Homo sapiens: one gene and its partners. The protein of the gene in region 3 interacts with the protein of the main gene of each other region in a biochemical or structural test. Each region holds a gene or a part of one and is shown on either strand. Other genes may lie near its edges. The genes, in order: PTPRC, PTPN12, PDPK1 and PTPRB.

Evidence for each region.
Region 1: of the proteins of PDPK1 (region 3) and PTPRC, one has a biochemical effect on the other in vitro, tested with the Homo sapiens proteins (one large-scale study listed by IntAct).
Region 2: of the proteins of PDPK1 (region 3) and PTPN12, one has a biochemical effect on the other in vitro, tested with the Homo sapiens proteins (one large-scale study listed by IntAct).
Region 4: of the proteins of PDPK1 (region 3) and PTPRB, one has a biochemical effect on the other in vitro, tested with the Homo sapiens proteins (one large-scale study listed by IntAct).

The regions. Positions count from the first base shown.
Region 1 is NC_000001.11:198,746,004-198,751,675, reverse strand, and holds part of PTPRC (receptor-type tyrosine-protein phosphatase C isoform 1 precursor), read right to left. Parts: intron 3,568-5,672; coding exon 3,477-3,567; intron 2,261-3,476; coding exon 2,127-2,260; intron 1,185-2,126; coding exon 1,050-1,184; intron 1-1,049. UniProt on the Homo sapiens protein: Protein tyrosine-protein phosphatase required for T-cell activation through the antigen receptor. Acts as a positive regulator of T-cell coactivation upon binding to DPP4.
Region 2 is NC_000007.14:77,539,620-77,545,291, reverse strand, and holds part of PTPN12 (tyrosine-protein phosphatase non-receptor type 12), read right to left. Parts: intron 1-5,672. UniProt on the Homo sapiens protein: Dephosphorylates a range of proteins, and thereby regulates cellular signaling cascades. Dephosphorylates cellular tyrosine kinases, such as ERBB2 and PTK2B/PYK2, and thereby regulates signaling via ERBB2 and PTK2B/PYK2.
Region 3 is NC_000016.10:2,557,433-2,563,104, forward strand, and holds part of PDPK1 (3-phosphoinositide-dependent protein kinase 1), read left to right. Parts: intron 1-270; coding exon 271-531; intron 532-547; exon of another isoform or gene 548-4,047; coding exon 4,048-4,090; intron 4,091-4,313; exon of another isoform or gene 4,314-4,338; coding exon 4,339-4,476; intron 4,477-5,672. UniProt on the Homo sapiens protein: Serine/threonine kinase which acts as a master kinase, phosphorylating and activating a subgroup of the AGC family of protein kinases.
Region 4 is NC_000012.12:70,629,634-70,635,305, reverse strand, and holds part of PTPRB (receptor-type tyrosine-protein phosphatase beta), read left to right. Parts: intron 1-5,672. UniProt on the Homo sapiens protein: Plays an important role in blood vessel remodeling and angiogenesis. Not necessary for the initial formation of blood vessels, but is essential for their maintenance and remodeling. Can induce dephosphorylation of TEK/TIE2, CDH5/VE-cadherin and KDR/VEGFR-2.

The DNA of each region.
Region 1 (5,672 bases), on a different chromosome or scaffold from region 3:
ACAACCCCACAATTTCTGACAAAGACAGGGAGTCCTGCCGGTACTTCCATCCTGTTTCCCAGCTTTCACAATTTATATGAAGGAAAGGATTGTGGGAATTCCATGCTAGAAATCTGGACTTATATTCCTTTAAAACAAAAAACATAAAAAGCAACTTTCCATGTACAGGGGAAGGGGACCAGGTGAGGGTGAGAAAGAGTGAGATTTAGGGGAGAGAGAGGGGCATAAAAAAGCATAAATCTTTTGCATACTTATAAGGTTATTCACTGAATAGGCTTGAACATATGTCAGATAATGTGGTTGGTGCTAAAGCTGAGTGAGATCTACCACCAGGGAAATTTTAATAATAACTGAAGACATTAAGAAAAGGATAAAATATCTGTCACAAGCATTAAGTAAAAAAATCAAATTATAGCTTAGATTCACCTTCAACTATAGACTTTTATGGCAATAAATATTATATGGGAATAAAGAAAGGATGATATAGATACATTTTTCAGGAGTTTGGTCTTGTTAAAAGAATAGGGTCAAAACTGGAAGACAGCACACATTTAGTTACATGGAATATCAATAAGTTTAGACTCAGTGATGACAATGCAAATGGCGTGTTTAGGCTTGGGCATGAAACCTGCTTGTCCAGAGTGGAGAGGATGGAAAACATAAAAATGGGAGGAAGATGAAAGACACATGAGGGGGTGATTGTCCAGGGTGCTGGATATCACAAAAAGATCTTGGCTTTTATCTTGAGAAAATGAGGAAAACAGCGTGAAAATGTAGCTGTTATTTGCTGTGACGCTGACATTGCTGCATCCTGGCTAATCTGTGAGCAGCATGCAAGACTGGAGGGGACAAACAGGAGAGACTGTCAGAATCCAGACACAGCTGATGGAGGCCAACACCAGGGTGAAAGGGGTAAGACTGAGCAGACAGAATTATGTGATGGAGGGATAAAAAAAGACGTGGGTATGGCGATGAAGCAAGCAATCCAAGACTAGAGAATGACGTTTTATGACAGAAAGGCTTAAAAGAAAATCCTCAAAAGTACAAACCTGGTCTCCATGTTTCAGTTCTGTCAGCATAACAATAACTTTGACTTTTCTTTGGAAGATCATCTGCCAAAAGTCACCAATGGTCTCCTTCAGTGGTCCCTGAGCAGCAATCATCACTTCAGGTTTCCAGTAGCTCTTTTTAGACAAAAAAAGGGTGGGACTTCGTTACTACAGAAGAGAGCTCAGTAGATTCTTAAAGTAACCATTTGGAAATATAGTCAGTTTGATATCAATGCTGTTACATACAAATAGTAATATTCTTATGTTTCTTACAAGAAACAATGTAATAGCTATATGTAAAATAATTATACAGATAATAGTAATTCTTAGCTAATAATGTGAAATCAAGATTACAACATATCTTGCGAAACAAATTTTCCTTTCCACAAAAGACACACATTTTTGTTTCTCTATAAAGGTTAATGTGATTGTAAAAAGGAATTACTTAAGCATTTCAAATTACCTTCATCGTGTCTATACTAATTTTAATTAGTGTCTTTACATTCTTATTATATTTCCTAATTAAACTAATATTCTATGAATGTGTGCTTTAGGAAACTTTGGAAAATAAGTAAATCCAACAGTGTATAAATAATAAATATTTAATAAATGACTAAAGTTTCATTGTTTGAATTCTCAGTTAATTAAAAAAGTGGGGGGATATGACACAGACTCACCTAATAATTCAGTTTATCTGAATGAAAAGTTTCTAACCATACAAATATACAAATTTGTCATTGCCTACAATTTGGGTATCTGAGTATGTATAAACATTTTCAAATACTTGTATTTGCTCAAATTTTACTATTTTTAAAATTGATGTGATTATAGCTATATTTGTCATAAAATATAACCAATAGCATTATCTTATTTTGTCTCAGGTTATTAGGTTATAGTATTTTTAAATCTTTCATTAAGTTAAATTGTAGCATTGAAATTGAAACTCTCATGTCAATCTATATGTAGTTATGACCAAGCTCATTATTCTTTTATAAAATCGCTTAATGAATGGCCCTAATAACATAGATATTATTTTAAAATGTTTGGATCTTGGGTTTTGGCAATTTAAGTACCTACCATTATAAAAGATGCATTGATGTATTTGCTTGGTTCCTCTGAATCACTGTCATCATCAGAGGATTCATCTGAATCATGCTCACTCTCTTTACTCATTTCCAGCTCATGTTTAAGTGGCACTCTGTTATAGTCATCTATGTGAAATAAATCAGTAGTAAGTCTTCCTTGAAAAAATTAAATTTCTTCTTCATTGTCATGTGGAAATTTGAAAGTATTTAAAAAGGGACAGATTGTATTATGAAAACTTACTGATCTACATGAAATAAGATCCTATATAAAATTCAGTACTTGTCGATAAACAAATTATACAACAAAAGTCTAAGAAAAAGGATTCCAGGAAAAAACATGGAACATAATTCCATGTCAAACAACAAAGAGATATCATATCATTATATATGATTATTTAATCTTTGATACATATACTTTAATTTCCCATGGACTATTATAATTCTGCTTGATATAAGTTTACAAAATACATAGCGTAGATTTTTTCCCTCAATTATACTCCAGTAATATTAAATTAACAATCTTATATGGGTAGCTTTGATTAATTATTTAGCCCAGAAAATTATTTGACCTATAATTTCTCACTGTTTCTTAATTTCTATAATTTATAATAACTTGGTCAAATGATTTGATTAACCATATCACCATCAATTCCATATTTTAAACTACATTCATAAGGACTCCTATGAAAATTAACTAGGTCAACCATGCACTGATCTGATTTATTTGGTCATCTAATTTATCAACTTGTGTTATATTTTATCCATGCTAATTTTAGTTTATGCAGCTGAATAAAATTACCATATGTGATCATTTTAATATGCTTAAATAGTAGAATTCAAGTATTGAAACTGTGCATATTTTGATCTGTTAAATTTGAAGATTTAGAATTTATAGAGTATTTTCCCCTTACTTTCAACCTCCCAGTTATAAGGGATAAAAAGGAAACATATAGAGAACAAATGGATGTAATTTTTACTATTTGTCAATTACCCTGGAGTAAATAACTGAAATAAACTAAAAATGAAAGAAAATGGGTAAAAGAGACTTGCTCTTTTTTCTCCCAGCTTTATATATTTCTCTTTTATGACAACCCATTTCTGAAATAATTGGTAAAAAGAAAACACTGAATACAGTCTACCCTCCAAAGCCCATTGTAAATGTTCAGGATTATAAGTTCTTGCAATAACTAGTATTTTAATACCTAGTAACTTCTTCCCTATTAACAACCAAATGTTGAAAACTTGCTTCAAGATAATTTATATGACTGTGTGTCCCACATTAAACAAATCCAAAAGAGCTTAACTTTATCTGATACAAAAAATAAAAAAATAAACTACATACATGGGATGACATTAGAATTCCTGTTTTTACTTTTATTTTCTTCTTGATTTCCAATGTGCTGTGTCCTCCAGCTCCTATATGAAGGAAGTCTCTGAAAAAAAAAAAAAAAACAGAAAAACTCCTTTAAAATGTAAATATTGGCTTATTGCATCATAAGATGCTCCCTAAGGAAAAGCATTTCATTAATTTTTGTGAAATTTGCATATGCTCCCTATAGGCCATAATTTTTCGGTTTGCCTCTGATTTTTTTTCTTTAAATTGCTCAGGCATTTAGTCCTTTTGACAGGGCTAGTATGCACTAAAGATATATATGTAACAGACTATGTCTCCTTCTTCAGAGCTGCTTGATAGAAAAATAATATAGTTTGTTCTTATATAAATTGAAACCACTAGACCGATGTTGATCTATATTGCAAAAGCAATGGTAAGTTATTTTAAATGATCAGAAATAAACTTTGGAGACAACACATTCTTAGGAGACTTGGCACATGTTTTGAAAGTTCATTCTTAATTTGTTTACACCTTCCAGATTGCTTTCCTCTCACCCACAGTTCCTAATTAGTCAGAAAAGATCCATCATTTCTATACACAAATCCTTTTAGTTTTCTTTCTTCCTACTTAATCCAGTCTGCCTTCATTTCTCGCTTGTAAAACATCAACAATTTCCTAACTGGCCTCTTTGTCTTCAATCTCGCCTGCTCTAATCCTTCTAAAACACAAAACAGAAGATGCTCTTCTGAAGATGAACAGCTTTCCATCACTATAAGAGGACAACAAACCTCCTCAAAATAGCATAAAAAGTCTTTATTGATACGCCCCTGACTGTTTCTCCAGCCTTACACCTTACTGGGTCCCTCAATACTTCTACCAAACCAGCTTCCTCAATTCTTGGAAGGGCCAAGCTGTTCTTCAACTCTTGGCACATAAACACTTTTTTTTTTTTTTCTTGCTTGAACTACCCTTTCCCCTTTTGGTTGCTCTAATAACTTTTCTTACCCTCTAGGTATCAGTTTAAATACCAATTTCTTCTGGAAGACACCCCTGCCTACAGTCTTTCCACTAGTCCTTAAATAAGTATTTGTCAAGTGAATAATATTTAATGATAATAGATAATGTTACAAATAACTGAAACTGAGAAGGCTCCTCATGTACAATTCGGTAAGATTTTATATACACACACACGCATGTAGATACGTGTGTGTATATAGACATATATTTTTTCAGCATAGTACCCTCATTCAAACTAATTATGGCACCCTGTTTCAAACCTCATTCTTTGCTACGTAATTGAGTGAAAGAAAATATCATCACTGAATTTTAGGCCACTTGAACACCACCATGAGCTGCATGAAGGACCAGATGTTTTGGAAACTGTTACAACACCTTGTGCTCTTGTGAGTGTAGTCACCGAGGCAGCCTATGCCCTGTAGCAATACTCAGGATTATAGGTGGAATTAATGGCTCACCTTCATCTAAGACACAAAGGATCTGTCACTCTTAAATCTCTACCTGTTTCACTTGCCATCACAAGTCTAAGCTTCCCAGTGCATCCACATTCCCCAGATTTTTATTCCTGAATGGTTATTTGTATCCTCAGATACAACCCAGTCTCTTACATCTAACCCATCAGTGCCTTCCTCCCTGCCCTCTGATGCCCATCGTCTGTCATCTGTGAACTCCCATTTATCTTAATCATCTTCTCCCAACAGTCACTTCACCCTTTTTTTTTTCTTTCCACCAATTAAAACCTGGATGTCAGCTAAGGACACCACCAATAACTCAGCAGCCCTTTTAAGAAAAAGTTGACTTTCCTCCTCACACCCCATTTACCTCACAGCTTCAAGAAAAGATACGTGTTCTCCTTGATCCCTGATTCTACTTGCAAACCATTTCTACTCATTTGCTTTCAAATCAACCAAGCACTTTGATATTCCTGCCATCATACTATACTAGCTTCTATCCACCGGCTTCACTGGGAAGTGTCAGGTATTGATTTCTGAATCACTCCACCTCATTTAGTTTTAGGCTTGGCTAAGTATATTCTCTTCTTTCCAAGGTCTGTCATCATTTTTGGTTAATTCAACATTGACAAGAATAATCTATCCAAGACTCTAGTCTCTTCATTTCTTAGCTTCTTCACCTCCCATGACTTTCCCTCCACTTCCCAGTCATCCACTTTCATCATTCCACCTTTGT
Region 2 (5,672 bases), on a different chromosome or scaffold from region 3:
TGAATGGACTGGATGAGGAAAGAAACTAGAGGCAAGTAGAGAACAACAGATATCACTTGTAATCACTCTCTAAATACCCACAAATTCACTATTTTTGAAGAGATACCGATGACATGATATCTTGATTTTATTAAGTCCAAAGCCAAAAGTTTAAAAGACATTTTATTAATACTCTAAGACAATGTCAACAAAGTATGATCCATTGGGTGTGGGATGCACAAATACAGAAGTTACCTTAAGAAACTGCAGCTAATAAAATCATATTTATTTAAAATATTTGAATTCAATGTAGCTCTTATCTTGTATTTTCTTTTTCAGTGGATACTGAAAATACAACGAGTTATGTGAGCACATCTGTGTAGGAGGGGAAGAAGCAGTTCTCATGATCGTCTAGAAGACAAACCCTTGGACCACTGAAGAATTCACCTGAAGAATAAATCTGTCTTACAGCATTAAGTTTGTCTACAATGTCTGCACATGCAATGGACATTAGTGCCTATTAAATGCCAAGCACTATATTAAGCAATGGGGATACAGGGATAATTAAGTCCCAGTCTCTAGCCTGGGAGGCGTTCAGTCTGGGGAAGACAGAAATGTAAATATTTATGAATCTAATGAACTCAGTGCTACAGAAACACAGAAGTATTTAACATATGAACAAAAAACCTACAGCCACCTAAATGTTAATGTCTTACTTTCAGTTTCATCCTTTAAAAATCCTTTTTCCAAGTTAAATATCAAATATTGATGGAAAAAAGTTAATATATTTTGAAAGTAAATAAAGTAAAACATTCTTGAGAATGCTTAAAGTAAATTTTTAGTTTACTGTCTCAGTGAACCATGTCTGGAGAGTTACTTAAAAGTTCACTTCCACTTCTGAAGTTAGTTGATGTAAATATGTTTAGGTGAATACTCATCAAAGGATGGATAAGAAAACCATAACTAAACCAGTGGCACTGGGTAAGCACTAAGATTAGCTCAAATGCAAGGACTGGAAAATATTTCCTATCACTCTAGCTTTGAAAGACAAATTAAGACACACAAAATCTTACAAGCTAACCACAAGAAGATACCACTTCACACCCAGTAGGATGCCTATAATCAAAAAGACAGCAACAAGTATCGGTGAAGATGTAGAGGAACTGGAACCCTCATATATTCCTGATTGGAATGTAATATGTGCAGCAGCTTTGGATAACAGTCTGGCAGTTCCGCAAAATGTTAAACATAGTGTTACCACGTGACTGAGCAATTCCACACTTAGATATATACCCAAGAGACCTGAAAATGTGTCCACACAGAAACTTGTACACAAATGTTCATAGCTGCATTATTCACATTAGCCAAAAAGTGGAAACAATTCAAATACCCATCAACACGATGAATGGATAAACAAAATGTGGTATCTATACAATAGAATATTATTCAGCCATAAAAAGGCCAAAAGTACTACGGATCAATACTATAACATGGATGAAACTTGAAATCATCATGTTAGGTGGAGTCAGTCACAAAACACCACATATTGTATGATTCCATTTATATAAAATGTCCAGAATACTTAAATCTATGGAAACAGAAGGTAGATTTGTGGTTGCCTGGGGCTTATGGGAAGGCGGGGAGTGACTGCTAATGGGTACAGAAAGTGAAGAAAATGTCCTAAAATTGATTATGGTTATTGTTGCATAACTTCATCAATGTAATAAAAAACTAGTGAATCATAGACTTTAAATGAATAAATCTTATGGTAGGTACTTATATCTCAATAAAGCTATTATTAGTTTTTTTAAACCTATAAGCTACAACACTGAATAAACAAATGATTAAAATTTTTATATTTATCAAGACTGCAACATAAGATCTTCCCAGGCTAAAGAGGATATACACATAGACAAGAAATAATAAGAAAAATATTCTCTAGTTCTCTCTTTAAAAAAAAAAAAAAAAGGCAGTGGAAGGGGCACACTCTCCTTCAACCAATCTTCCTCTAGCTCCTACCATCTACTTTCAAAATGTTAAAAAAAATGGAAAGACACTAAACCCACCCTTCACCCTATAATCTAGCTTCTTCCCATACCCCAACCCAAACTGTTTTTTCTAGTCACCAAAGCACTCCTATGTGCCAAATGGAATAGGTACTTTCTCAACCTCACCTTACCGGTCCTCCCAGCATTATTTGACTCTGGTAATAACTCCTTTCTTGAAACTCTCCCTGGCTTTTCTGACATCTCTGGTTCTCCTCCCTCCTCCTTGACCACACCTTCTCAGGAACAATCACTAGTATATCCTTCTTTTGGCTGTTATTTTAAGACTGATGTTCTTCAACCTAAAGCTGGTCACTCTATAAGTTTGTTGGAATAAGCTCATTCACTCCCATGCTGTCGACTATCTCCTACATGCTTATATTATGATGCCTACATCTTTAACTCCGTCCTGTCAGAAATCTTGAGCTCTACATTTCTACTGGATGTCTCAGAGGCACCGCAGTTTTAACATGTTGAAAATTAAATTTATCCTCTTCTCCCCCTGAAACTTCCTCCTACAATGTTGTTTGGTCTCCTCTACTTGTTTCTCCTCCCTCACTCCTTACTCTACCAAATGGTATTCTCTAGCTTGGGTGACAGATACCAAGCTAGATATTTTGCGAGTCATAACACTATACTCTTTTCTTCTTTACTACCTACATCTAATGAATCATTGAGACTCCTTTCTTAATTCTTATCAGATGTGTTGTATACACTCTATTTCCCCATCTCAGTTCACTTCAGGCCCTCACATCTCACTTCTTATATTTCAACAGCTTCCAAAATGCCACCCTTCATACTGCTATCAGATTCAACTTTGTAAAACACAAATGACTGTTTACCTTTCTTAAAAGACTCAGTAGTGCTCCAGAAACCCAGACTAATGATTCTCACCTTTTCTACCAGAACCTATCTAAGTAAGTGAAGGTTCAGAGTACAACTCAAGGAGCAGGCTGGAGAAGGTGAGATGGGGGAATGACGCTGGAGTGGACCAGCATGTCTATTTTCTTAACACCTCCCTACTTTCTCCATGTCTCTAGGAGTTACAATGCAGACTGTCCAGAATTGCTATTATCGGTCTGTAGAATAAAATCTAAGTATAGCATAGATGTAAGATCCTTCACAAAAAGACCTCTACCTAACTTTCCCAGCATTACCTTTATCATTTACCATGTATTAGCTCACTGGTTCTCAAAGTATGGTCCAGGACCACCTCCCCAACCCCCAGCCATCAGAGGGAGTCTGTGTGGAGTTAAAACCTAGGTCTGTCAAACATGAATGTGCACCACCCTACTTTATACATTTATCTCTCATTTTGTAAATATTAAAAGTAGAGATAATTGAGATCAAATTCTGGATCAGCCACAAATTAGCTATTTGCTAATTTATTAGCAAAATTAGCATGTTTTCAACATGCAAATAACCATCTAGGCAACATAGTTCTGCACAGTCTGGGTACCTTAGCTGTCTCCTCTTTAACAGTATGGGGCACAACCAAGGCCAGGAATAGACACTCATAGAATAGTAATGACAGGTGGAAAATTTCTATCCTCAATAGTAATCAAGAAATTCAAGTTAAAACAAGATATCAGTTTTCAACCATCAAATAAAGATCAAGAAAATTATAATATGAACACTCATACATTATGACAGTTGTATAAACTGACAAAACTTTTTCAAGTTTATGAACATGTATTAAATGTTTATATACGTCTACCTAGTACTCCTGGGAAGCTATCTTATGCAACAGTGAAAAATGTCAGTTTCAGCAAAAATGTTAATCACAGAATTACTATATGTAACAGCAGAAAGTAGAATGACCTAAATACTCAAACATAAAGAAACAAAATTAAGATATAAGATAGTTACCAAGTAGTAGGCCGGCTACGGTGGCTCACACCTGTAACCCCAGCACTTTGAGGCTGAGGCAGGTGGATTGCTTGAGCCCAGGAGTTTGAGACCAGCCTGGGCAACATGGGGAAACCCTGTCTCTACAAAAAATACAAAAATCAGCAGGGCTTGGTGGGGTGGGCCCATAGCCCCAGCTACTCTGGAGGCTGAAGTGGGAGGATCACCTGAGCCCAGGGAGACCGACGCTGCCGTGAGCCAGGATCGCAACCATGCACTCCAGCCTGGGTGACAGAGTGAGACCCTGTCTCAAAAACAGAACAAAACAACAAAACAAAACAAAACCAAAAAATATTAACAGAGGTAGCCTTTAAATGACAGGACTGTAGGACAGCTGGATAGAGCGAAAAGAGCATCATCACCAGTCAGGCAAGTGGAGTGTTCATTTGAACTGTGGTCTAAGTGTAAGGCATTATTATTATTCTATTAATTTCCAAATTTGGAATAAACATTATTTTATGATGGAACAGTTATATCAGCTACATTATCTCTAAGGCTCAGTCATAAAATGTTAAGAATTTAAAATGCATTTTTAATCGACATCAGAATTTAAAAATAATAGAATCTATAAGCTAATCTTTTTTTTCTCTTTCCATGCCAGGAGAACATAGTTCCTCTCCAGCCTTCCAGTCAGGGGAAAAAGCAGCACCAACTACCGGCTGTCTTAATTACAGCTATTGCTTATCAAGTCAGGAAATTAAAAAAAAAAAAAGCCCTATAAAAGAATAGCCTTAGTCATCAAATCTCTAATGTAGAATCACCTAGCTATACCTAGGTATCATGGAAGAAAAAGGAAACTCATTTACTCTTGGAGAAATGAACTCTCGGTGGCTCATGCCTGTAATCCTAGCACTTTGGGAGGCTGAGGCGGGCAGATCACAAAGTCAGTCAGATGAAAGTTCAAGACCAGTCTGGCCAATATGGTGAAATCCCATCTCTACTAAAAATACAAAAATTAGCCAGGCGTGGTGGCATGCGCCTGTAATCTCAGCTACTCAGGAGGCTGAGGCAGGAGAATCGCTTGAACCTGGGAGGTGGAGGATGCAGTGAGCCGAGATTGAGCCACTGCACTCCAACCTGGGCGACACAGCGAGGTGTTACATCTCAAAAAAAAAAGAAAGAAAGAAAGAAAGAAAGAAATGAACTCTCCAATAGGAATCCCTGACTCATCCCCAAAGCATGAACCCTAAGGCCACTTCTCCAGTACAGGAGTTCAGAGGCTGGGCAACCTGTCCTGATGGCCCGCATCACCAAACAATGCTCCTTCCTGACGGTATATGCCTAGGGATAACAAGGTGACTAGCATGCAAACAAGAAATGACCAGGGACCACACCATCTCTTCTTCCATAACCAAAGTAAGACGGTAAAAAACTAGTTTTAGGCCGGGCATGGTGGCTCACGCCTGTAATCCCAGCACTTTGGGAGGCCAAAGCAGATGGATCACTTGAGATGAGGAGTTCGAGAGCAGCCTGCAAATATGGCGAAACCCCATCTCTACTAAAAATACAAAATTAGCAGGGCGTGGTAGCTTGCGCCTGTAGTCCCGGCTACTTCGGACAAAAATTAGCCGGGCGTGGTGGCACGTGCCTATAATCTCAGCTACTCAGGAGGCTGAGGCAGGAGCATCGCTTGAATCTGGGAGGCAGAGGTTGCAGTGAGCTGAGATTGCGCCGCTGCACTCCAGCCGGGGCGACAGAGCGTAGAGCGAGACTCCGTCTCAAAAAAAAAACCAACCAACC
Region 3 (5,672 bases):
GGCCTTGGGATGAGTTGGCTGGAGGCTCAGGCAGCGCGAGGGACAGGAGGAGGGCGAGGCGCTGCCTGGTGGATTAGCGGGGAGCCATGGCACGGGCAGGACTCAGGAGAGGAGGCCGGCAGCTCACAGCAGACCGCGGGGCTCAGCTGGCCTGCCCTGTGCTTGGGGTTTGTTTTTGAGCGTTGAAATGAGGTCCTTAAACCTTAGTCCGTGCATTGAGAGCAAGGCAGCTGCCTTGAGCCTTACTTCCTTTTCCTCTTTGTCGCCTAGTATGACGCCGTGCCCATCCAGTCCAGCGTGGTGTTATGTTCCTGCCCATCCCCATCAATGGTGAGGACCCAGACTGAGTCCAGCACGCCCCCTGGCATTCCTGGTGGCAGCAGGCAGGGCCCCGCCATGGACGGCACTGCAGCCGAGCCTCGGCCCGGCGCCGGCTCCCTGCAGCATGCCCAGCCTCCGCCGCAGCCTCGGAAGAAGCGGCCTGAGGACTTCAAGTTTGGGAAAATCCTTGGGGAAGGCTCTTTTTCCACGGTGAGTATTTGCTGCTGCTGTGTGTCAAACGTACGTGATTTCCTTGGGGAGGCTCACCTTCCTCGGGGCTTGCCGGAGACTCCAAGCAAGGCTGGTGTCCTTCCAGGCAGGAGGTCTCAGGCCCCTTGAGGGGTGTCACCTGTTGTGAAGGCCACTTGAGTCTTTGGGGGCTGGGTACCCCCCAAGCAGATGACGTGATGAGTGTGGCTAAATATTTAACCTGGTTTTGTAGATGAGAACGTTAGACACATCTCTTGATGGTCTGCGGAGGTTTTTTCTGATGTAGTTAATTTCATTTTAACCTGGCATCAGCAAGTTACATTCTGTGTCCTTGTGTCTCACTGGCAGGGCCCTGGGAAGCTGTTCTTTTTCTTAGATTGAAAGTTAGTATCTCTCCAGGGTTTTTGGGGACATTTATTGACCTCTTCTTATTTCTCTGTTTTGTTTTTTTGAATACATAAAACAGTACGCTCTGGACATTTGCTGGAGACACAGCCTCCAGAGTCTTGTGTTCCGAGTTTCACAAACAGGAGTATTGTCGCAGTACTGTCAAGTCACACTTGTTACCTGTCTTCGGGGTGTTTTTTCCTCTGAAAGCAAAGAAATGAAGGTCGAAAGCAGCTGACATGGGACGTTTTGCTGACGTGGGACCCATGAAGCCGTGTGTGGTTGTGGATTTAGTGAAGGTTGTAACAGGTTCAGGGGAGGCCTGAGCAACTCGGGGTGTACTGTCTCCATCTGGGCCTCTAAAGAGACAGAGTCCCGTGCCGCCACTGTGGTCGCCAAGGTGGCCGCCGTGTGCGTGCTAGGGCCATTCCAGGGAGCCCTGGGGGCACCTCACTCTGGAGGGCCTGGGTGAGTTCCTGAATAATTCTTTCTTGCCTGACCTTTGTGAAGAAACCGTAGGTGAGGTTTATTTTCCTTTTTTCTCTTTTTTACACATAGGAAATATTTCACAATGCAAAGAAAAACATGAAATATAGCTTACCCATATTCCCAACATATTGTTTTAATTAATGTTAACTTTTGCTGCCCTTACACTTTAGATTTTTTAAATTGCAGGTTTTATGAAATAATTTTTTTATAAAAGGATTATGCCCTCATGAAAAATGCCTTCAACCATGAGACTAGTCCCCAAAGTTTTGGGGACTCAGATCCTTTCAGAAAGAAGAAACTCTTTGGAAAACCTTGGGCATTCTGCATGGCTGCTTACAACCACCCAGTGAAAGAACAGGCCTCCTCTTTTCTCAGCTTTACCTGTTTTTTGAGACAGAGTCTTGCTCTGTCACCCAGGCTTGAGTGCAGTGGCATGATCATAGCTCACTGCAGCCTCGACTTCCTGGGCTCAAGTGATCCTCTTACCTCAGCCTCCCAAGTAGCTGCAGTTACAGGAATGCACCACCGTGCCCAGCTAATTGTAAAATTTTTTGTAGAGACAGGGTCTCACTTTGTTGCCCAGACTGGTCTTGAACTCCTAGGCTCGAGTGATTCTCTCCTCAGCCTTGCAAAGTGTTGGGATTACAGGCGTGAGCCACTGTGCTTGGCCTCAGTTTTACTTCCTTGTATGTCTCTTTTTAATTTAACTTTATTTTATTATGTATGTATTTATCCTTTTAGAAACAGAGTCTTGCTCTGTCACCTAGGCTGGAGTGCAGCGGTGTGATCATAGCTCACTGCAGCCTTCACCACCTGGGCTTAAGCGATCCTCCTGCCTTAGCCTCCTGAGTAGCTGGGACCACAGGCATGTGCCACCATACATGGCCCTTAACATTTATCTTGACTGAAAAAGGAAGACTCATCTGTGAAATTGCCTGTTTCCCTGGGTTCTGGAGATGGGTGGAGAGCAGGCACTGTCCCTCCAGGGGCTGTGGTCCGTGTCTTTCTGAACCTGCACCAGGGAGGTGCCCGGGAGAGCACGGTGAGCCGGAGGCTCCTCCATGGGGCTGTTTGGAATCCACAGTACTGGGTCTCAGATTACATGTGTTACCCTCAGTTCTTTCTCAGCTTTCCTGAAATGGAGATCACATAAAAGTTGATTTCCAGGGGAGGGGGAAAGGACAGTGATAGGAGGCTGGGCAAGAGCCAGCTGCAGCACCGGAGAGCCGGGAGGCCCCCTGAGGACGGTCACAACCTCCAGGGAGGGACACGTCACGCGCCATTCTCTGGAAGAGGATCCTTCCTTCTTGTAGGAAACCTGCTTGTGAAGTGTTGAGTTTAGACAACGGAAAGATCACATCAGTATCCCCTTAGAAAGGGTTCCACTAAATATCGGTGCTCGTTCACAATTCTTTCTTCCTCTTTTCTACTTATGAAGCTAGCACGTGCTCTTGTGGAGAAACGTGACCTCACAGAAACACATGAGCTAGAGAGGGGAGCCCTGCCCGGCCCACTTCCCCTTTCTCCCTGGCAGCTGAGAGCCATCCATGCGTGGCGTATTCCTCTGGGAAGACCTTGAGTATGTAGAGTCCCCAGAATCCAACTTCATTCTTCTTGAGTGCCACAAGGCGTCTCACATGGTGCTTTCCAGGATCTCTTCTGACGTGTCCCATCAGGAGTCCTGCCCCGATTGCGGCTCACAGCCCGGGGCCAGGTGGACCTGGCCCTGTGGCCTCCTGAAGGTCTTCCTGCCAGCCCCCAGGAATGTCACGGGACAGGTTTCCTCTGCTCCCTGCTCCTCAGGCCGTCCCCCTGTGGGTGTCTTAGGAGACACTTGTGTCCCACTTGGTGGTGGTGGGGCCTCCCTGGCACAGCTGCCTCATGCTCTCTGGCTAAACCGTGGGCCCACCAGGAATCTCCAGTCTGGTGCCTCAGGGTGTGCCCCAGGCTAGTCCGAGTGGAGGGTCTCTCCCCTGTTTGGGATGCCTGCCCTGCTGGAGTGCTCTGTCTCGGAGGTGGGGTTTGAGTGCAGGGCTCAGGGGTGCTGAGAGGACAGGGCAGGAGGCCTGCTGCATCCCGGGCAGGTGGCTCCCTCTTGTGGGCACGCAGGGCCATGCATTGCTGGTTTAGCTCCCTCTGTCCTTTACAGCCAGGCTCTCTTCATGGTGCCCACAAGCAACATCATACAAAATGTATGATAACAGTTATTTCCAAAAACGAAACTTCAGGGCAGCCTTTGCAATGAATGTATACTAGAAGGACATATTGTTGTCACAGAAGCCCCTGTGCCCTGCCACTTGTGGTGGCGCCACTGTCTTCCTTCTGTTGGTGAAGGGCGTGGCAGTCGAAGAGGTTCCTGAGTTTGTACTTGTGTTGCACCGTTAGGGCTGTTAGCAGCTGATCCAGAAGCTTCTGGAAACAACAGAGAGATGGATATGTTTTCTCTTAGCTGTTAGAACACATCAACACGAGCATTGGCTTTTAGCTCTACTTGTCAGTACAAGACCCAAAATATTTCACTGTAGACTCAAGCCTTCAGTGGGGACAGGAAGCGTGCGTGTGGGGCAGAGGGACTCGTCAGGCCCAGTGTCCTGGTTATTACATTGTGTGTTTCTTTTTCTCCTTTTCTTTCCCAACCAGGTTGTCCTGGCTCGAGAACTGGCAACCTCCAGAGAATATGCGAGTGAGTATGGGCTGCAGGGAGCTGTGCGTCCGGGAGCAGGGCAAGCGGCTCCGTGCAGGGCGGCTGGGGTGGCAGGGCCGGTGTTTCTGTGCTGATTTCAGGGTACAGGACACTGTTGGCTTTAGAGACCACCAGGCTGTTGTGTACAATGTTTGAAAGACTTTAATTTGTACCAGTTACCTTTGTGAGTCATGTCTTTAGTGTTTTTTGTTGTTTCTGATAGTAACTCACTTCTCTCTCACCTGAAGTTAAAATTCTGGAGAAGCGACATATCATAAAAGAGAACAAGGTCCCCTATGTAACCAGAGAGCGGGATGTCATGTCGCGCCTGGATCACCCCTTCTTTGTTAAGCTTTACTTCACATTTCAGGACGACGAGAAGCTGTGTATCCTTTGCGTGGTTGGTGCCGTCTGAAGCCACACCAGTCACCCCTCTCACTTGGAATCAGACCCTGTGTGTTCCCACAAGCAGCCCCCGCTCCCTGCCGAGTGGGGTCCCTCAGGCCGCTGACATTCAGGGAGGCAGCCGAGGCAGCGCCAGGGTGTGGCTGGGAGTCTGCACAGGACGTTACCTCCCGGAGAAGCCACCGATGTGGCTCCAGCACAGTCCTCTCTGCTGCGGCTTGCTTGGTCGGCGTCCCTTGCTCCCCTAGAGCGCCATCTTTTCTGTTATTAAACCTTGGCTCAGGAATCTGGGAGGCAAGGCCCGGTGGAAGTTGGGGTGGGCCCCACCTCTGCCCCATCCAGCTGACCTGTGGGCCTGCCAGTGGCTGGGCTGGCCACGCCACACCGTCGTCACCCCCAGCAGGTGCAGTCTGCATCTGCTCTTCTCCTCCCCCGCCACCCTCCAAGCTGGCCCAAGTGTCGTGGCCTCCCCATCCTGCCTGGGGAGGGGCCTGAGTCCTCCCACCTGTCCTCCCCGTCTCTCCCCAGCACCCGGCTCTTCTGTGTTAGAGCTTCGTTCTGGCCTGCTCCCACTCTCAGCACCATCCTGCAGCTCCTTCGGCTGCCGGCGGAGTGTGTGTGCTCTCTCTGTTTGGAGGTGCTTGCCAAGTGCAGGTTGATGGGTGATGGGGATGCGCTGCTATGCCGGGTGGCGTCTCTGCCCACGAGAAGCTTCGATTTTGGTGGAGGAGCTGGACGTGCACTGACGATCCGTGTCAGAGGCTTCCCGGCAGCAAGATGCGCTGCCAAGAGTCTTAGGGCTGGGTAGGGGCTGGCGGCAGTGTGGGGCTCTTTCAGCTCCTGGGCAGGAGTGTGTGGGGGGGCATGAAAGGCTGTGGTGGGCTGGGCCCCTGAGCCGTGGCAGCCTGGCACTGACTCTGGACTTCCTTCTCTTTGTGGCGGGGAACGTGGGGTTTGCTGTGGCTTCTCCTAGGCCAGGCGGGAGAACGGGCAGGAGAGCAGGGGCAGGGGCCGTGGTCGAGGTCTGATGAACAGACCGGTCAAGAGAATGGAGTCAGGGGCGGCTCCTGGGAGGTGGCCCTCAAGCCTAGTGCACAGCGGTGTCTGCTGCTGAGCTGGGAGAGACCGGGGCGGGTGCTGGGCTGGCATTTCATGCATCCGCTGGTGCCACCATTCA
Region 4 (5,672 bases), on a different chromosome or scaffold from region 3:
TCAGTAATCGGAAAATTATTAGATTTTATTGACAGACACTTCTATTTGCTAATTATAATAAATTATTAGAACATCAGAATGGTGCTTGATAAGACTGGAAGATAGTTGTGTTTTTGCAAATCTCTTGTATTGCTGTTTAGGGGTAGATATCTTTTGGAGGTAACACACTTTTGAAATGTTAAGAATCAATGGGCAGCCACAGATTTTTCTAATTTATTGACCATTAATGGATATAACCCAGATAATGGACACATGTAGAAAATATGTTATACACATGTGCAAGCTCCTGGTGCAGGACACAGTTCAGTCCTGAGCTAGGAATTTTTGCTTGTGGAATATATAGGCAGTTTAATCTTCTCTTGAAGTTAATCATGCAATTGTGTATTTACTCTTCTATTAGAGGTTTGCTTTAGAAAGTCATGAAAGATAAAACTGATGAATCACAATATATTAGGCACCAATGAACCTTACAAAGCATGGGAAAAGTTATCAAGAAACGAAGCGCCTCACTAAGAAGACAAATTTTTCAGGGTTAAGTAAATTGTCCCAGATAAATTAGCAGCAGATCTATGATTAGAGCCTAAGTTTTTTGACTCTTTGTTCAGTGTACATTTTACTATACCAGAGGTTCCCAAATGCTTGACCACAGACTTGCCCCATGGCTTGCCTAAGAATCACCTGGGGTAGAAAAGGGAGGGCTTACTAAAAATACACATTCCCGTAGCTAATGCATCCTGGGCTTAATTCCTAGGTGATGGGTTGATAGGTGCAACAAAGCACCACGGCACACGTTTACCTATGTAACAAATCTGCACACCCTGCACATGTACCCCAAAACTAAAAATAAAAATTTAAAAAAAAATACACATTCCCAGGATTCTTTCCCACCATTTTTTCCTCTACAACCACCTCCAAGATTCTGTTTCAGGAAATCTGGATTTGTGCATAATACTTGATATTTATTAATCACCAGAAAATTTTGATCCATAATCCAATATGGAGATCAGCATCCACTGTATTGTTAAGTCTTTTCCTTAGGTGTTGATTTGTGAGGCTTATATTAGTCTTTCCACCATGGTAATCTTTGGACAATTTTTTCTCACTCATTCATTCTGTAAGTTAAAACAAGCATTTAACTAGATGCCATTTGAATGTGTTATGCTTTTCTACAATAAGTGGTATGCTTTGCTACAATAAAAGTTGAGAGTTATAGTTTCTGTTCTTATATCATTTCTGCCTATGAGAAAAAAACCTACTCAAAAATTCAACTTTATCAGAAAATATTCAGCATATAGCACCAATTTGTACAATACCTTTCCTGTGGTTCATCTATCAAGGCCTCTCCTAAATAATATAGAAACATTATAACTGTTCCATTTTTACTGTTTTACACAAGAAGTGAGATTCATCCCCAAACCCCAATCAAACCTTATTTAACATAAGATTACTTAGTTGGAACTTTAAAAAAAAGTAGATATGGACTCAGTGGTGAGTTATTCAAGATAAAAGATAATTCATAGAAAAACTACCTCCTATGACCCTCATACAAATATGTCTAGTAATAGACTTCGAAAATAAGGTAACTAGAATAAGCCATTTGCAATTAACCACTGAACAATGCTATATTCAAAAAATGCCTGATAATATGTGTTGGGGAAAGAAATTAATTTCTAGAAAAAGCAGAAGTTAAAATTTGCACAATTGTGGTACAAAAACACCCTTATATTTGAGTACACATAAGTATAACACATACTTTTGCTTTAACACAATTATAAGCTAACAGATATATTTTTCTGCTCCATCTTAAATATGCCATTGTGGGGTTTTTTCTTTTTGTTTTTGTTTTTTCTTTGGTTTTTGTTTTTAGAAACAAAGTCTTGCTCTGTTGCCCAGGCAGGAGAGCCATGGTGTGATCATAGCTCAATGTAGCCTCCAACTCCTGGGCTCAAGTGATCCTCCCACCTCAGCCTCCCAAAGTACTGGGATTACAGGCATGAATCACCATGCCCAGCCCTGATAAAAGTTTAAGAATAATACTTGTAGACCTATATCATGAGAGCTCACTGACTTGCTAGAGTAGCTACTGTGAAAAATTAACCGAAATGCATTCATATGTTTGCAATGAGTGATTTCAAATCATTGTTTAAGTTGGTAACTAAGTATTATAATCTACAGCAGCACAAATACATGTGTTGTTCATCTATGGGATGTGAATTTTTTTGTGTGTTCTTCCATGAAAGAAAGCAGACCTATGAAGGTAAAAATCTAAGCCACATGTTTCATATTTGTTTCATAAAAGACACATTAATGATTGTATTCAAGTTTCCAGGTAATATTTATTTAACACCTACTATGTGCCAGAGCTTGTGCTAGCACTCAGGTACCCTGTGCTAGTACTAAGGTGCCCTCCACAAGTGATTTTTGACCCAAGCTGCATATTAGACTCACATGGCAGCTTTTAACTAATACTAGAGTATAAAACCTGAGCTTTATCCTCTAAGCTGACTAAATGAGGTATTGTATTTTTAAAGTACTTCCTAGGTGATTCTGATGTGCAGCCAAGGTTGCAAATCATTAAATACATCTTATTCCTTAAAGTAATGGGGAAATCAGATAAGTAAATAAATAGGTAATTACAATAGAATGTAGAGAGAAGAAAGTACTTTCCTTTCCAATATATGTCCTTGCCAGTATGTCACATTAAGCACTCATTCCTTTTTTTTTTTTAATTATACTTTAAGTTCTAGGGTGCATGTGCACAATGTGCAGGTTTGTTACATAGGTATACGTGTGCCATGTTGGTTTGCTGCACTCATCAACTCGTCATTTACACTAGGCATTTCTCCCAGTGCTATCCTTCCCCCAGTCCCCCACCCCCCGACAGGACCCAGTGTGTGATGTCTCCTGCCCTGTGTCCAAGTGTTCTCGTTGTTCAATTTCCACCTATGAGTGGTACACGCGGTGTTTGGTTTTCTGTCCTTGTGATAGTTTGCTGAGAATGATGGTTTCCAGCTTCATCCATGTCCCTGCAAATGACATGAACTCATCATTTTTTATGGCTGCAATAGTATTCCATGGTGTATATGTGCCACATTTTCTTAATCTAGTCTACCATTGATGGACATTTGGGTTGGTTCCAAGTCTTTGCTATTGTGAATAGTGCCACAATAAATATACACGTGCATGTGTCTTTATAGTAGCTTGATTTATAATCCTTTGAGTATATACCCAGTAATGCAATCACTGGGTCAAATGGTATTTCTAGTTCTAGATCCTTGAAGAATCACCACACTGTCTTCCACAGTGGTTGAACTAGTTTACACTCCTACCAACAGTGTAAGTGTTCCAATTTCTCCACATCCTCTCCAGCATCTGTTGTTTCCTGACTTTTTAATGATTGCCATTCTAACTGGCAAGAGATGGTATCTCATTGTGGTTTTGATTTGCATTTCTCTGATGACCAGTGATGATAAGCATTTTTTCATGTGTCTGTTGGCTGCATAAATGTCTTCTTTTTAGAAGTGTCTGTTCATATCCTTTGCCCACTTTTTGATGGGGTTGTTTGTTTTTTTCTTGTAAATTTGTTTAAGTTCTTTGTAGATTCTGGATATTAGCCCTTTGTCATATGGGTAGATTGCAAAAATTTTCTCCCATTCTGTAGGTTGCCTGTTCACTCTGATGGTAGTTTCTTCTGCTGTGCAGAAGCTCTTTAGTTTAATTAGATCCCATTTGTCTATTTTGGCTTTTGTTGCCATTGCTTTTGGTGTTTTAGTCATGAGGTGTTTGCCCATGCCTATGTCCTGAATGGTATTGCCTAGGTTTTCTTCTAGGGTTTTTATGGTTTTAGGTCTAACATTTAAGTCTTTAATCCATCTTGAATTGATTTTTGTATAAGGTGTAAGGAAGGGATCCAGTTTCAGCTTTCTACATATGGCTAGCCAGTTTTCCCAGCTCCATTTATTAAATAGGGAATCCTTTCCCCATTGCTTGTTTTTGTCAGGTTTGTCAAAGATCAGATGGTTGTAGATGTGCGGTATTATTTCTGAGGGCTCTGTTCGGTTCCATTGGTCTATATCTCTGTTTTGGTACCAGTACCATGCTGTTTTGGTTACTGTAGCCTTGTAGTATGGTTTGAAGTCAGGTAGTGTGATGCCTCCAGCTTTGTTCTTTTTGCTTAGGATTGTCTTGGCTATGTGGGCTCTTTTTTGGTTCCATATGAACTTTAAAGTAGTTTTTTCCAATTCTGTGAAGAAAGTCATTGGTAGCTTGATGGGAATGGCATTGAATCTATAAATTACCTTGGGCAGTATGGCCATTTTCACGATATTGATTCTTCCTATCCATGAGCATGGAATGTTCTTCCATGTGTTTGTGTCCTCTTTTATTTCGTTGAGCAGTGGTTTGTAGTTCTCCTTGAAGAGGTCCTTCACATCCCTTGTAAGTTGGATTCCTAGGTATTTTATTCTCTTTGTAGCAATTGTGAATGGGAGTTCATTCATGACTTGGCTCTCTGTCTGTTATTGGTGTGTAGTAATGCTTGTGATTTTTGCACATTGATTTTGTATCCTGAGACTTTGCTGAAATTGCTTAACAGCTTAAGGAGATCCAAAATTTCAGCCCAAAGCTGAGACTATGGGATTTTCTAAATATACAATCATGTCATCTGCAAACAGGGACAATTTGATTTCCTCTTTTCCTAATCGAATACCCTTTATTTCTTTCTCTTGCCTGATTGCCCTGGCCAGAACTCCCAACACTATGTCGAATAGGAGTGGTGAGAGAGGGCATCCTTGTCTTATGCCGGTTTTCAAAGGGAATGCTTCCAGTTTTTGCCCATTCAGTATGATATTGGCTGTGGGTTTATCATAAATAGCTCTTATTATTTTGAGATCTGTTCCATCAATACCTAGTTTATTGAGAGTTTTTAGCGTGAAGGGCTGTTGGATTTTGTCAAAGGCTTTTTCTGCATCTATTGAGATAATCATGTGGTTTTTGTTGTTGGTTCTGTTTATGTGATGGATTACATTTATTGATTTGCATATGTTGAACCAGCCTTGCATCCCAGGGATGAAGCTGACTTGGTTGTGGTGGATAAGCTTTTTGATATGCTGCTGGATTCGGTTTGCCAGTATTTTATTGAGGATTTTTGCATTGATGTTCATCAGGGATATTGGTCTAAAATTCTCTTTTTTTGTTGTGTCTCTGCCAGGCTTTGGTATCAGGATGAGGATTCCCTCTTTTTCTGTTGATTGGAAAAGTTTCAGAAGGAATGGTACAAGCTCCTCTTTGTACCTCTGGTAGAATTCGGCTGTGAATCCATCTGGTCCTGGACTTTTTTTGGTTGGTAGGCTATTAATTATTGCCTCAATTTCAGAACCTGTTATTGGTCTATTCAGAGATTCCACTTCTTCCTGGTTTAGTCTTGGACACATTATGAGTCCAGGAATGTATCCATTTCTTCTAGATTTTCTGTTTTATTTGCATAGAGGTGTTTATAATATTCTCTGATGGTAGTTTGTATTTCTGTGGGATCGGTGGTGATATCCCTTTATCATTTTTTATTGCATCTATTTGATTCTTCTCTGTTTTCTTCTTTATTAGTCTTGTTAGCAGTCTTATGTAGTTTGTTGATGTTTTCAAAATAACAGCTCCTGGATTCACTGATATTTTGA